Linked DNA regions of Homo sapiens. The protein of the gene in region 1 purifies or fractionates together with the protein of each later gene. This does not show direct contact. Each region holds a gene or a part of one and is shown in the gene's direction. Other genes may lie near its edges.

Region 1 (3,158 bases):
CCCTCAGCGTGGGAAGGGGGCCACGAGGAGACAAGGGTGACAGATGCAACTCTGGAGAGGCCCAGGAGACCCCAAGCCCTTTGGACATGGCCCAGCCCAGGCCGGCTTTTCCGTCTCCACTGCCTGTCCCTTCACCTGGACACTCCTCTCCCAACAGGAGATCCTAGAGGAGGTGGTGAGAGAGCTCCACAAGGTGAAGGAGGAGATCATCGACGGTGAGTGCAGCCCCACCGGGGAGGGTGGCACCCAGGTGTGGCCGCAGGACAAGGGTCCCTGTCACCCAGGCTGGGGGCCTCCAGTTTTGAGCTGGAGCCCATACTGCACTGGGCCCTGTGAGAGATTTCATTCTTACCATCTCTAGTTGAGGAAACAGGCTCAGGAAAGCTGAAAGCTAAGTGGCTTGCCTAAGAATTTGTAGCTCCCTGGTAGCATGACACCCGAATCTGACCTTCCACATCCCCGGCACCTTCCTGGAAGACCCACGTGGGAAGAGCATGGAGGGGAGACCCCAGCATCGTTCCAGAGCCAGGTCTGGAGGAGCCACCTGAGCTGCTGTCATTCCACCCCCTGGCGGTTTATACTGCCTTCTTGATACTGCCACCTCCAGTCACTGGTGTTGGGCTTCTGAGGTGACCACTCTGCCTTCCTGGGGGTACAGGAAGACCAAGGTCTACAGAAGCACCTTCCAGGCTTGAGCTCGTTCACAGCCTGCCTGGCCCTGGGCTGGGGAACAGGCAGGGAGCAGCCTCTGGCTCCAGAGCAGGGTGGGTCTCAATGCATCACATCCGTCCTTCCGGTTCCCAGCAGAGCCTTTGAATGCTCTGCCTCAGATCTGCAGCCAGAGGAAAAGGGGGAGTGGGCAGGGCAGACTCAGTCTAGGGACGAGCTATGCAGCACAGCCAGTGCCAGCTCCCCACGTGCCTCCCCAACCAGGGTGATAAAGGCTGACACCTGGGTGTGTAGCTGGGTCTGGCCCCCAGGGCATCACAGTGACCGGGGCAAAAGGGTCCCACAAGCGCACAGGGGTGGAGGCTGATGGCAGAGGGAAGAGGCAGGTGGGAGCCCAAAGACCCAGGCCTCCTCCCCCAGCCGGCCCACCCTTGTTTGAGCAGAGAGCACTCAGTTCCTGTTTGTCCAGTTCCCCCAAAGGCCTGGGCTGGGGAGATAAGGAGTTAACAAATGAGGGGAATGAGGCAGCCTGGGCGATAGGCAGGCACTCAGCCAACTGGTCACACCGCCTTACTGCTGGGTGCCGTCTGGCCCCAGGCATAGCTGGGTCAGAAACCCAGGGCCCACCACAGCCTCTCCACCTGCTGTGGGTGCAGCCCCAGGTGGAACCCACCCTGGCTGAGAGCCCGGGGGTAGGCATGGGCCATACCAGGGGCTCTGAGAAGCAGCTCCCATCCCCCAGCCCCCACAACCTTCTCCTGGCTGTTGGCTCTTGGCCCAGCAAGGTCCATCCAGAGAGAGGCCTGAGTTGACATAGAGGAGGGGGAGTCCGGGAGGGGATGGATACCAGAGGAAGGAGGGAAAGGCCCAAATTTGGGAGGCCGGGGGTTGGAGCACTAGCTTGGGGTGATGAGGAAGCTGGGGGGAGGCAAGAGAGGACCCTGCCTCTCCTGAGGAGTGAGCAGAGCCAGGGCAGTCCCTGGGGTCCAGGGCCAAGATTTCCTGCTGACCCCTGCAGGAGCTGGGAGGGCAGAGCCTCAGCCTCCACTATGTTGGGGGAAGGGCTCCCGGGCCCCCGGCACCTGGACACCCACCTGTCCAGAGCCTACAGAGACCCTGCGTCCCCACACAGCAGCTCCTCACACCAGAGTTCTGGTGCCCAGCACTCCTCAGCAGCAGTGAGGCCACAGGCAGGGCACAGGCCTCTGTCCCTACGCCAGGTCCTCCCCTAAAAGGGCAGTGGCAGCAGGGGCCGCCGCAGAAGGAATGGCAGATGAGACCCAAAGCCTTTGGTCATCACCCCAGAGGTCTATGCCAAAGCCTGGGTGGGGCTCCCAGGAGATGGAACAGGGACACATACCAGGCAGGTCCACGCCAGGGGTGCGGGGCCCTGATGAGGAACCGGGCTGCACTGGTCATGGCTGCACCTGAGCCGCCGCCACCTGTCCCGCAGCCATCAGGCAGGAGCTGAGTGGGATCAGCACCACGTAAGGGGCCGGCCTCGCTGCGCTGATTCGTCGAGCCCATCCGGCGACAGAGGACAGCCAGAAGCCCAGCCAGCCCCAGACTCCAGTGCACCAGAGCACGCACAGGAGCCTGGGCGCGCTGCTGTGAAACGTCCTGACCTGTGATCACACATGACAGTGAGGAAACCAAGTGCAACTCCTGGGTTTTTTTAGATTCTGCCTGACACGGAACACCAGGTCTGCTCGTCTTTTTTGTGTTTTATATTTGCTTATTTAAGGTACATTTCTTTGGGTTTCTAGAGACGCCCCTAAGTCACCTGCTTCATTAGACGGTTTCCAGGTTTTCTCCCAGGTGACGCTGTTAGCGCCTCAGCTGGCGGTGACAGCCGGCCCAGCGTGGCGCCACCACACACCGCAGAGCTGTCCAGGCACAGCTCCGTCCCCAGCGCTCATGGTGTTGAAACTGTCTGTCATGCACCACGGTGTCTGTGTCCACACAGTAATAAACGGTTTACTGTCCGCACCCTCGGGCTCAGGCCCTCGCATTGGTCCATCACGCTCCGGGCTGGGGATGCCCCTTTTCAGAGAAGGGCCCGGGACCACGGTGACCAGGAGTCGTAGGAGCAAGATGGCGGTCTTCGACAGGAAGCTGGGCTCAGAACATTCCCAAGCCCCGGGAAGGTGGGGTGGTGTCCTGGGGCTGGGCCTCAGGTCCTGCCTGTAGGGAACTCCCTACGGGATCTCCAGGAAGATGGTCCCTCAAGTGCAACCCACACCCCCGAACCTCAGAGGACTCCACGTGCATTCTGACGGGCAGGGCCCTGCGAGCGTCCTGTTCAGGGGAGGGATGGACTTGGGGCTTAGCAGGCACCAGGCAAATGCAAGGCAGCTTTGCCTTCTCCTCGGCCCCACAAAGTCTCCTGGGAGGACCACCTGGCCTGCAATGGGCTGTCCCAGGCCCCTGCCCTGAGGCAGCAGCCAGAGACAGAGGTTCTGACCCTCAGCTTCAAGGAACCAGGGCCA
Region 2 (2,689 bases), 3.4 Mb from region 1:
GGGCTGAGTGATGGGATGGCCTCCCTGTCCCCCTTGCACAGATTTCCCCGGAGGCTCCAGGCAGCTGGGCTGCTCTCATTCCCTATACCTGCGCTAGGCAGGATAGGGCAGGGTTGCCACTGGCCTCGCCTGTGCCCACAACAGACAGCACGGCATACACAGCCTGTCAACCCCAGCTCACCCCTAGACAGGGTGCCCAACCCAGGGCTAGCCTGGGGCTTTAGGCAGCCAGGACCATACAGCCCTGGAATGACGCCCACCTGTAGCTTGGGGTCCTCCCAAGCCCTGTGTGGGTCTCCAGGGTGAGGTGGGGGTTGTTTCCTGGGAGGCTGTGGGTCCCGAGCAGTCCCAACTGATGCCTTGCCCATCCCTTCTTGTCCTGCCAGGCACCGGCAGTGGCTCTGTGTCCCACGCCATCATCCGCACCATTGCACCCACGGGTCACCTGCACACGGTGGAGTTCCACCAGCAGCGGGCAGAGAAGGCCCGGGAGGAGTTCCAGGAGCACCGTGTGGGCCGCTGGGTGACTGTGCGCACCCAGGACGTGTGCCGCAGTGGCTTTGGCGTGAGCCACGTGGCCGACGCCGTCTTCCTGGACATCCCATCACCCTGGGAGGCCGTGGGCCACGCCTGGGACGCCCTCAAGGTCGAAGGTGCATCCGGGGTTCCGGGAGAGGTACAGCCTGGGTGGGGGTGGGGCAAGGGTGCAGGACTGAGCTCCTGGGATCTCAGAGGGGTCCAGAGACCAAGCCACACCATGGCAGTGGCCAGGCCAGGGCCCCACTTTGGCCTGAGGTGAGGAGTGGGTCAGGCTGGCCAGGGGAGGCAGAGCTGGGGAGGATGGTCCCTGGCTGGGCCCTGCTCCTGGTCTCTGGCCTCTCCCAACCCCCTGATGGAGGAAGGTGGCAGCGCCACCCAAGTGCAGGGCAGGCCCGGCCGGAGGAGTCTGGAGTCCCCTCCCTGCTGTTTCCCAAAACCTCTCCTCCCCCAGGCTCTGGAGCCCAGGGAGCTGGCCCCTTTTAGGGAAGATGCTGGGTGCGGAGGCGGGGCAGCCCTGGGGAAGGTCGGGCCTCAAGCCAGGGAGGTGGCTGGGAGGCCCAGGGTTTTTCCCTTTTCTGGAGAAGGAGCAGCTCAGGCAGCAGGGGCCCCTTCCTTCTTCCCAGCTGAGAGTTGTATTCTGAGAGGGTTGAAGGGTGGAGGTGCTGGGCGCCCCACCCCACCTCAAAGATGAGCCGAGGCCTGGTGCGAACAGCAAGGCTGTGGCCGGGGGTCCCCTGCTGGCTCCAGCCCAGCCCTGACTCCTGGGTCCTGGTCTCTGCTGAGGTGGGTAGCTGTGGGGATCTCCACACCCTGCCTCCTAGGCTTCCTGCTCTGGGGACACTTCTGGGCCTGGACCATAGTCCCAGGGAGGCTGAACCCGGCAGAGCCTCCCCTGGGGCCCCCCTGCTGCCTTTGTGACTCCTTCCTCCAGCGTGGCTCGGGGAACCCGCGCCTGCCTCTGGGACCTGTCCCTTTCCCTGCGAGCTCCCCCTTCTGGGTCCAAAGGCTCCTGGCTCATTCATGGGCCCGGCATCTCCTGCCGGCCACGGGAGCCCGCTGGGGAGGATGCGGCATGCTCAGCCTCTGTGCCCTGTCTAGGCTGTTGTCACACAGCAGGTGCCTCCTCTAACCCCGAACCTCCTGGCGGCCCCGTGTTAGGGTACAGCTGAGGAGACCAAACCTCAGGGACGTTTGAGGACACTTGCCTGGGCCACATACCTCTACCCGGCCCTGGCTTCCCCAGGTCCTCCCTGCCAGGACAGGGACCCGGGCTGGGTTCTCATTCACTGCAGGCCAGGCCAAGTGAAGCCCGTGGCTGCCCTGGTGGGAGGCGGCAGGGAGGGGCTGTCATGCTCGGGCTCTGCTTCGAGTAGGCGCCTCCTGTTCCCGGGAGCAGCGACAGCCTCTAATTTCCTGTGACAGCAGCGGCCCCCGCACCGCCCCACGCTGCCGTGCTGTCAGAGCTGCTCCGGGCCCAGAGCTCCAGCAGCCCTGTGGAAGGCAGGAGAGCAGTGCCCGCTGTGGGCCAAGTGAGACAATGGCAGCGCGGGCTTGACCCGGTGCCTGGCACATGGGAGGGCCTGGCATGGCTAAGCTGGGTGACATGAACAGCGGCGCCAGGCCCCATGGGGGGCTGTCAGTTGAGGGCCAGGCCCCTCTGCCCTGCAGTCCCAGCTCTTGGAGAGCTTGCAGTCTGTGTTGGGGCTGTCTTAGGCTGGCCTCAGACCCTAGGGTGGGAGTCCAGGGATGCTAGGGCCAGACGGGCCAGGCTCTGCCACCCCTGCCCTCTGACCCTCGGGTCCTGTTTCCCACAGGCGGGCGCTTCTGCTCCTTCTCACCGTGCATCGAGCAGGTGCAACGCACATGCCAGGCGCTGGCAGCGCGCGGCTTCTCAGAGCTGAGCACCCTGGAGGTGCTGCCACAGGTCTACAACGTGCGCACTGTCAGCCTGCCACCGCCCGACCTGGGCACAGGCACAGATGGCCCTGCCGGCTCCGACACCAGCCCCTTCCGCAGCGGCACGCCCATGAAGGAGGCCGTGGGCCACACCGGCTACCTGACCTTCGCCACCAAGACCCCAGGCTAGGGGGCCGCCTCCCAGGGCACCAGGGAGCTGGGAGCACTGAAGGGCTGGGCAGGGAGGCCAGAG
Region 3 (3,500 bases), on another chromosome or scaffold:
GGCAGGTGAGGTCACAATGAGAATCTACACTATTGTACTTCGGGGTTCAACCCAAACAGAAGTTAACAGGAGAACTTAAATTATGTAGCGCATGATTTTTAATTGAGTATGGTACTGTAATTTTAATCCACATTTTCTGCTAGTTAACTATAAAATAACCCTTAAAACTGATCTAAAAGCCTATTTTAAAAATATAAGTTGCGGCCGGGCACGGTGGCTCACGCCTGTAATCCCAGCACTTTGGGAGGCCAAGGTGGGTGGATCACAAGGTGAGGAGATCAAGACCATCCCGGCCAACATGGTGAAACCCCGTCTCTACTGAAATACAAAAAAAAAAAAAAAAAAAATTAGCCAGGCGTGGTGGCGCGCACACGTAGTCCCAGCTTACTGGGGAGACTGAGGCAGGGGAATTGCTTGAACCAGGGAGGTGGAGGTTGCAGTGAGCTGAGATGGCACCACTGCACTCCAGCTTGGGGACAGAGCAAGAATCCATCTCAAAAAAAAAAAAGTTGCTTCCTGCTTGCCTATCAGAGTAATTCAGTCCAAAAGTCATTACGTGGGGCTGAGCAAGGCAGGCATCTGGGGAAGGTGGGGGCGAGAGAAAGGCTGGCAAGGTAGTAGCCCAGCAGGGGATACTGGAGCCCAAATGCAGTGAGGAGGGCCTCTGGGGGTAGGGACTTGTGCACAGCAGCAGCCTAGCAGGGGATGAGGAGGGCATCCTATTAGGGTGAAGGAAATGGTGGCACAGGTTTTTGGAATGGGAACAAAAGGTGAGCCTTACCCAGGAGGGAGGAAATGGTGCAGTGTAAGTTGCTTGAGCCCAAGAAGGGTAGGTTGGGGGAAAGGGGGAAGAGAAGACCATGCATGTGGGATGGTGGCAGTGGCACTCTGGCATTAGGTGGCAGAGCTCAGAGAGTAGAGTGTGTGCGCCGAATGGTGACAGCAAGAGGATTTTGATTACATAGTGAGAGAAGGGGTGATGATTATAAAAAGTAAATTTATTAAGGACAAGTGGGAACCAGACTTCTCACTGTTCAGCAAGAGTATTAAACCCATGTAAAGAGGGGAAATGAAAATAAACCCTGTAGTATTGGAATTGAATGTTAGGTAGCAGATTATATGGAGATTAATATAAAAGTCATACACACATACAACACCTAAATCCGTATGTATATACACTTGCAGCTTTGTCACTTAGAGGACCTGGGAACAGTGACAGTCCCATGGTGATTAGCATTTTTAGCACCCAGACCTTGGTTTCTAAAGCATTCCATCCAGATTATAGTTTCTAAATGCTATTCTCCATTAAAAGGACTAGGTTCCTTGGAGAAATAATTTTACAATGGACAATCTTAGCAAATACATTAATTGGGTAATCAAAGTTATCAATCACAATGGAACAAATTGCAGTTGCATCCACCTGATAGGATGCAATGTTAAGAGCTTACTATTCAACTCTAACAGGTAGTGGGAATTATTTTCTAGGTTTAGACTGTCATGATGCCTTTAAGTTTGGAGCCTCCTCTACAAAGTAGAGTTAACACATTACACATAAAGAAGCATGATTTTGCCTGTTCCTCAGGGACACCCTCTTACAGGTTGTTCATTTGGCCTCTTCACCACCAATCTTACTGCCCATCTACTATTCCAACCTGCTTAACTCACCCAGTTTCTGCTAGTTTTCAGCCTCCCTTTGGATAAGCACCCATCAGCATTTGATCAGGCTTCTGCTCAATGTCCTTCAAGTGGCTCTGGCCTTGCCTTGAGAGCAGGGTAAAGATAATCTCTTGTTTGTTGATAAGGAAAACTCAGGCTCAGCAAGGTTAATTAATCTGTACATTATGCAACTGGAATTTAAATCTAGTTTAACTCATTCCACTGTGGCATAAAAGGAGGTACACGTACCTATCTGTGATGACAATCCACTTTCTCATTTCCTTCATGTGACTTCTCACAATCACAATTGTCTTTGCTTATGTCTCCCATAGGAAAACGTCAATTATGACAGCAGGTAATTTTATCGGAAGTGTTTATAACTATATCCCAGTACGTGGAACGAAAAAGTTATCAAGAAATATTTATTGAATGTAAAAAAGGTTACCATTTTCTCAATGTGTATAACCTTTTTTTATTTTTTTAAGACTACAATGCAGCTAATTGCAAAAAAATTTTCCTTTCTTTAGGTATGTTATGCATAAAAGTGGATAATTTACATGATAAATGAAAATGGCCAATTCTTTAAGAGGAGAAGTACTAAAACTTTATAAAAATGTAAGTAATTATGTTGCCAATTTTATAAAAATGTTATTATATGACATGGATTGTTTAGAAATATATAATCTTTCTTTTTGAAGCTGCTGTATCTTGGACGAGACTATCCAAAAGGAGCAGACTATTTTAAAAAGCGTTTGAAGAACATTTTCCTTAAAAACAAAGATGTGAAGAATCCAGAGAAGATCAAAGAACTTATTGCACAGGGCGAATTTGTAATGAAAGAGCTAGAAGCTTTGTACTTCCTTAGGAAATACAGAGCTATGAAACAACGCTATTATTCAGATACCAACAAAACTAATTGATCATTACTACTTTAATTTAGCTATCAGTGCCAGCTGTTTATGTATACCAGATGTTGTAAAATAATTCTAACTTAAAATGGGAAGATATACATGTTGTGTAAAAAATCCCTGAGCTGCCCTACTGAACTAAATAGGTTTCAACTTCTGTTCATACGGAGAAAGTATCAGCAACTTTATGCTCAATTTTGATACAAACATAGCAATTTAGCTATACTACCGATCATAAATTAATGAGCACCCAATTTTGAATGAAAATATAATACACTTAATCCTCTAACTTAATAGGACTTAGCCAATTATTTTTAGCTTATTTCTCCATTTTACTGACAAGAGAATGCCATTTACCGAACATTTAATAAGCAAAATAATTTCTTACACACTTACTTCTCTTAACTTTTGAAAGGAATCCCTTATTTTTTCACCCAATTTGGTATATTAACAGCACATACTCAAGGTTCACTACAAAACAAACAGTTCCTGGTAATGATTTAAATGTAGTTATAGAAATAAATAATATGTATGGAGTCATTACTTCTGACCTTGAAATAGCCTGCTGGTGACTGGCATTAACATACATAACTAACTATTCAATTATTTCCATTATTAATGTTGCTGCTGCTACCTTTGGGCCTAAAACCAAGTCACCTGTTGTGTATCAATTACCTTCTTTGATAAAAGGAAATAAATAAATAATGTTATCCTATTTTTTTGTCATAAAGGCAGATTTGTTTTGCATCTACTTCTAAATATGGTTTTAAGTTTAAGCAAACACGCCTTTACATAATATCCACAGCACCTTTTAGAAATAAAGGATACTTCTAACAAGCTGCATAAAAGATTCACTGGTATACTATAGTGTCTATGGCTTATAAAGTATTCCATATCCATTTCGGGGCAAACAGTTCAAATTTCATGAATAAATAC
Region 4 (3,500 bases), on another chromosome or scaffold:
TGGAAACTGTAGACTCAGGAAAATGAGCAGGAGAGGTGAACAATGCAGTGCGCTAATGAGATACAAGTGTAGAGTCAACAACTGGATACTCGATCATCAGAAATACTGCTTGAAACGACCTTCTTTTTTTTTTCTGAGATAGTCTCGCTCTGTCACCCAGCCTGGAATGCAGTGGCACAATCTGGGTTCAATGCAACCTCCACTTCCCAGGTTCAAGAGATTCTCCTGCTCAGCCTCCCAAGTAGCTGGGATTACAAGCATGTACCACCACATCCAGCTAATTTTTGTACTTTTAGTGGCAACGGGGTTTCACCATGTTGGCCAGGCTGGTCTCAAACTCTGACCTCAAGTGATCCACCTGCCTCGGCCTCCCAAAGTGCTGGGATTGCACGCGTGAGCCCCCGCGCCCGGCCCAGAACCCCTTGATAATGAAATGTGAAGCCTGAACCTTAGACACCAGACTGCAGTTAAATACGGTTTGTCCGTAAGACTGGAGGCTGCAGTTGAATACGGTTTGTCCATAAGATTGGAGGCTGCACTTGAATACGGTTTGTCTGTAAGATTGGAGGCTGCAGTTAAACATGGTTTGTCCATAAGATTGGAGGCTGCACTTGAATACGGTTTGTCTGTAAGATTGGAGGCTGCAGTTAAATAAATACGGCTTGTCCGTAAGATTGGAGGCTGCAGTTAAATAAATACGGTTTGTCCGTAAGATTGGAGGCTGCAGTTAAATAAATACGGTTTGTCCGTAAGATTGGAGGCTGCAGTTAAATAAATACGGTTTGTCCGTAAGATTGGAGGCTGCAGTTGAATACGGTTTGTCCGTAAGATTGGAGGCTGCAGTTGAATACGGTTTGTCCGTAAGATTGGAGGCTGCAGTTAAATAAATACAGTTTGTCCGTAAGATTGGAGGCTGCAGTTAAATAAATACGGTTTGTCCGTAAGATTGGAAGGTGGAACGGTCCTTAAATTAAAGTGCATTTGGTAGGAATTGATGGCTGAGTTGTTTTAAAGGACACACAGCCAGGTGGGTATAAGATCTCAATTTAGAGAACTGAAAACCCAGGCACACAGCAGACACGAATGGCATGTAGGGTTTGTCGCTGACAGGATAGTTGTGGGCCGCCACCATGTGGGGATATCAGCTCAGCTGGGATGGGCCTGTCACCCTCACGCAGGATCCCTGGAATCACACAGCACGGCCTTCTGTGTCCGGCGTCTCCCTCGGGGAGGTGTGTTTCCGAGTCCTGGCCATGCTGGAGCAGGTGTGGGTGCTCCTGTCCTTGCCGTGGCAGCTTGGCTTCACATCATCTTATCCATTCATTCATGGATTTGCTGGTTTCTGCTTTTTAGCTGTCAGGAGTAGTGCTGCCTCGAATGTTCAGGTGTAAGTTCTATGTGGATGTATTCTTCCATTTCTCCTGGATACATAGCTAGGAGTGGAGTCGCTGGTCACAGTAACTCTGCTCACCTTTTAGCTACCAGGTGGCCTTCCAGAGTGGCTGCAGTGTTTCACATTCCCACTGGCAGTTATAAGAGAGCTCCAGTTTCTCCACATCCTCGCCAGCGCTGCTTGTCTGTCTTGTTGATCCTAGACTTCCAGCGGGTGGGAAGCGGATCTGGTTGCGGTTTTGATTTGCAGTTCCCAGGTGGCTCATGAACGAGCGTCTTTTTATGTGCTCGTTGGATATCTTCTTTGGGAAAGTGTCTGTCGAGATCCCTTGTCCATTGAGCCACTTATGTTTTTATTACTGAGTTTTAAGAGGTAAATCCCTTTTATTCAAGAAGTGAGGGAAAGGAAAAAATACAAAGTTAAGTCCCTTATCAGATGATGTTTCAAAGTATTGGCTTTTGGCCAGGCATAGGGGCCCACACTTGTAATCTCAGCATTTTGCGGGGCCGAGGCAGGATTGTTTGAGCCCTGTAGTTTGAGACTAACCTGGGCAACATGGCAAGACCTCATCTCTACCAAAAAAAACCTTTTTTTTTATTACCTGGCATGGTGGCGTACACCTATAGTCCCAGCTGCTCGGGAAGCTGAGATGGGAGGCTCGCTTGAGCCAGGAGGTCAAGGCTGCAGTGAGCCATGATTGCACTACTGCACTCCAGTCTGGGCGACAGCGAGACCCTATCTGAAGGAAAGAAAAAAAAGGCAGAAATGAAAACTGACAACAAGGCTAGGTGCGGTGGCTCACGCCCGTAATCCTAGCACTTTGGGAGGCTGAGGAGGGCGAATCACCTGAGATCAAGAGTTTGAGATCAGCCTGGCCAACATGGTGAAACCTCATCTCTACTAAAAATACAAAAATTAGCTGGGTGTGTTGGCACATGCCTGTAATCCTAGCTACTTGGGAGGCTGAGGCGGGAGAATCGCTTGAACCCAGGAGGCGGAGGTTGCAGTGAGCCGAGATGGCGCCACCGCACTCCACCTGAGCAACAGAGCAAGACTCTGTCTCAAAAAAAAAAAAAAGAAAAGAAAACTGACAAGGCCATAGCAGAGAAGGACCTACAAGTTTTTGCTAGACTAAATAATTGGCAACCGTTTTTTAGCTTAATTGAGAAAAGGAGAGAATGAGCAAATACTGCTAGGCATGAAGAAAGGGACAAAACTAGAGATGCCTCAGCCTGGATCTCAGCCAGATCAAGACCCTGTCTTAAAGTACCAGTTTGGTTTGTTTTTTTCCCGAGACGGAGTCTTGCTCTGTCGCCCAGGCTGGAGTGCAGTAGCATGATCTCAGCTTGTTGCAACCTCCGCCTCCTGGGTTCAAGCGATTCTCCTGCCTCAGCCTCCCAAGTAGCTGGGATTACAGGCTCATGCCACCGTGCCCAACTAATTTTTGCATTTTTCGTAGAGACAGGGTTTCCCCATGTTGGCCAGGCTGGCCTCAAACTCCTGACCTCAGGTGATCCACCTGCCTTGGCCTCCCAAAGTGCTGGGATTACAGATGTGAGCTACTGCGCCCAGCCACAGTTTAAGAGTTTTATAGTTTTAGAGGCCGAGACCGGAGGATCACTTGAAGTCAGGAGTTCAAGACCAGCCCTGGCAACGTAGCAAGACTCCTCCTCTACCAAAACAAAAAGTAGGATAGTTTTAACTCTCACAGTTAGGGTGTTGATCCATTCTGAGTTAATCTTTGTATGTGGTATGAGGCACCTTTTCTTTTTTTTTGCAACAGTTTTCCCTCCGCTGCCCAGGTTGGAGTGCAGTGGCATAATCTCAGCTCAGTGCAGCCTCCACCTCCCAGGCTCAAGGAGTTCTCCTGCCTCAGCCTCCCTGTAATAGGAGTGCAGCACCGCGCCTAGCTAATTTTTGTATTTTTTGTACAGACAAGGTTTTGCCCTGTTGAACTCCTGGGCTCAAGTGATCCACTCGCCTCAGCCTCCACCCTTAGTTTTAATCAAAAGTTATATTATCAAAAATTAAAAGACTTGTCTAGGGTAATTTTAAAGACTAATAGTTCTCAACCAGAGCAGTTTTGCCCCCGCCTTTCCCCAGATGT

The links.
Region 2: the proteins of EVL (region 1) and TRMT61A purify together in Homo sapiens (affinity purification with mass spectrometry; 2 studies listed by BioGRID and IntAct, with this or other methods). This does not show direct contact.
Region 3: the proteins of EVL (region 1) and ETFRF1 purify together in Homo sapiens (affinity purification with mass spectrometry; 2 studies listed by BioGRID and IntAct, with this or other methods). This does not show direct contact.
Region 4: the proteins of EVL (region 1) and TACC3 purify together in Homo sapiens (affinity purification with mass spectrometry; 2 studies listed by BioGRID and IntAct, with this or other methods). This does not show direct contact.

The regions. Positions count from the first base shown.
Region 1 is NC_000014.9:100,141,579-100,144,736, forward strand, and holds the end of EVL (ena/VASP-like protein), read left to right. Parts: intron 1-157; coding exon 158-215; intron 216-2,122; coding exon 2,123-2,160; 3' UTR 2,161-2,658; downstream 2,659-3,158. UniProt on the Homo sapiens protein: Ena/VASP proteins are actin-associated proteins involved in a range of processes dependent on cytoskeleton remodeling and cell polarity such as axon guidance and lamellipodial and filopodial dynamics in migrating cells.
Region 2 is NC_000014.9:103,532,196-103,534,884, forward strand, and holds part of TRMT61A (tRNA (adenine(58)-N(1))-methyltransferase catalytic subunit TRMT61A), read left to right. Parts: intron 1-386; coding exon 387-653; intron 654-2,354; coding exon 2,355-2,626; 3' UTR 2,627-2,689. UniProt on the Homo sapiens protein: Catalytic subunit of tRNA (adenine-N(1)-)-methyltransferase, which catalyzes the formation of N(1)-methyladenine at position 58 (m1A58) in initiator methionyl-tRNA.
Region 3 is NC_000012.12:25,201,737-25,205,236, forward strand, and holds the end of ETFRF1 (electron transfer flavoprotein regulatory factor 1), read left to right. Parts: exon of another isoform or gene 1-2,096; intron 2,097-2,183; 5' UTR 2,184-2,220; coding exon 2,221-2,271; intron 2,272-2,354; coding exon 2,355-2,576; 3' UTR 2,577-3,407; downstream 3,408-3,500. UniProt on the Homo sapiens protein: Acts as a regulator of the electron transfer flavoprotein by promoting the removal of flavin from the ETF holoenzyme (composed of ETFA and ETFB).
Region 4 is NC_000004.12:1,731,521-1,735,020, forward strand, and holds part of TACC3 (transforming acidic coiled-coil-containing protein 3), read left to right. Parts: intron 1-3,500. UniProt on the Homo sapiens protein: Plays a role in the microtubule-dependent coupling of the nucleus and the centrosome. Involved in the processes that regulate centrosome-mediated interkinetic nuclear migration (INM) of neural progenitors.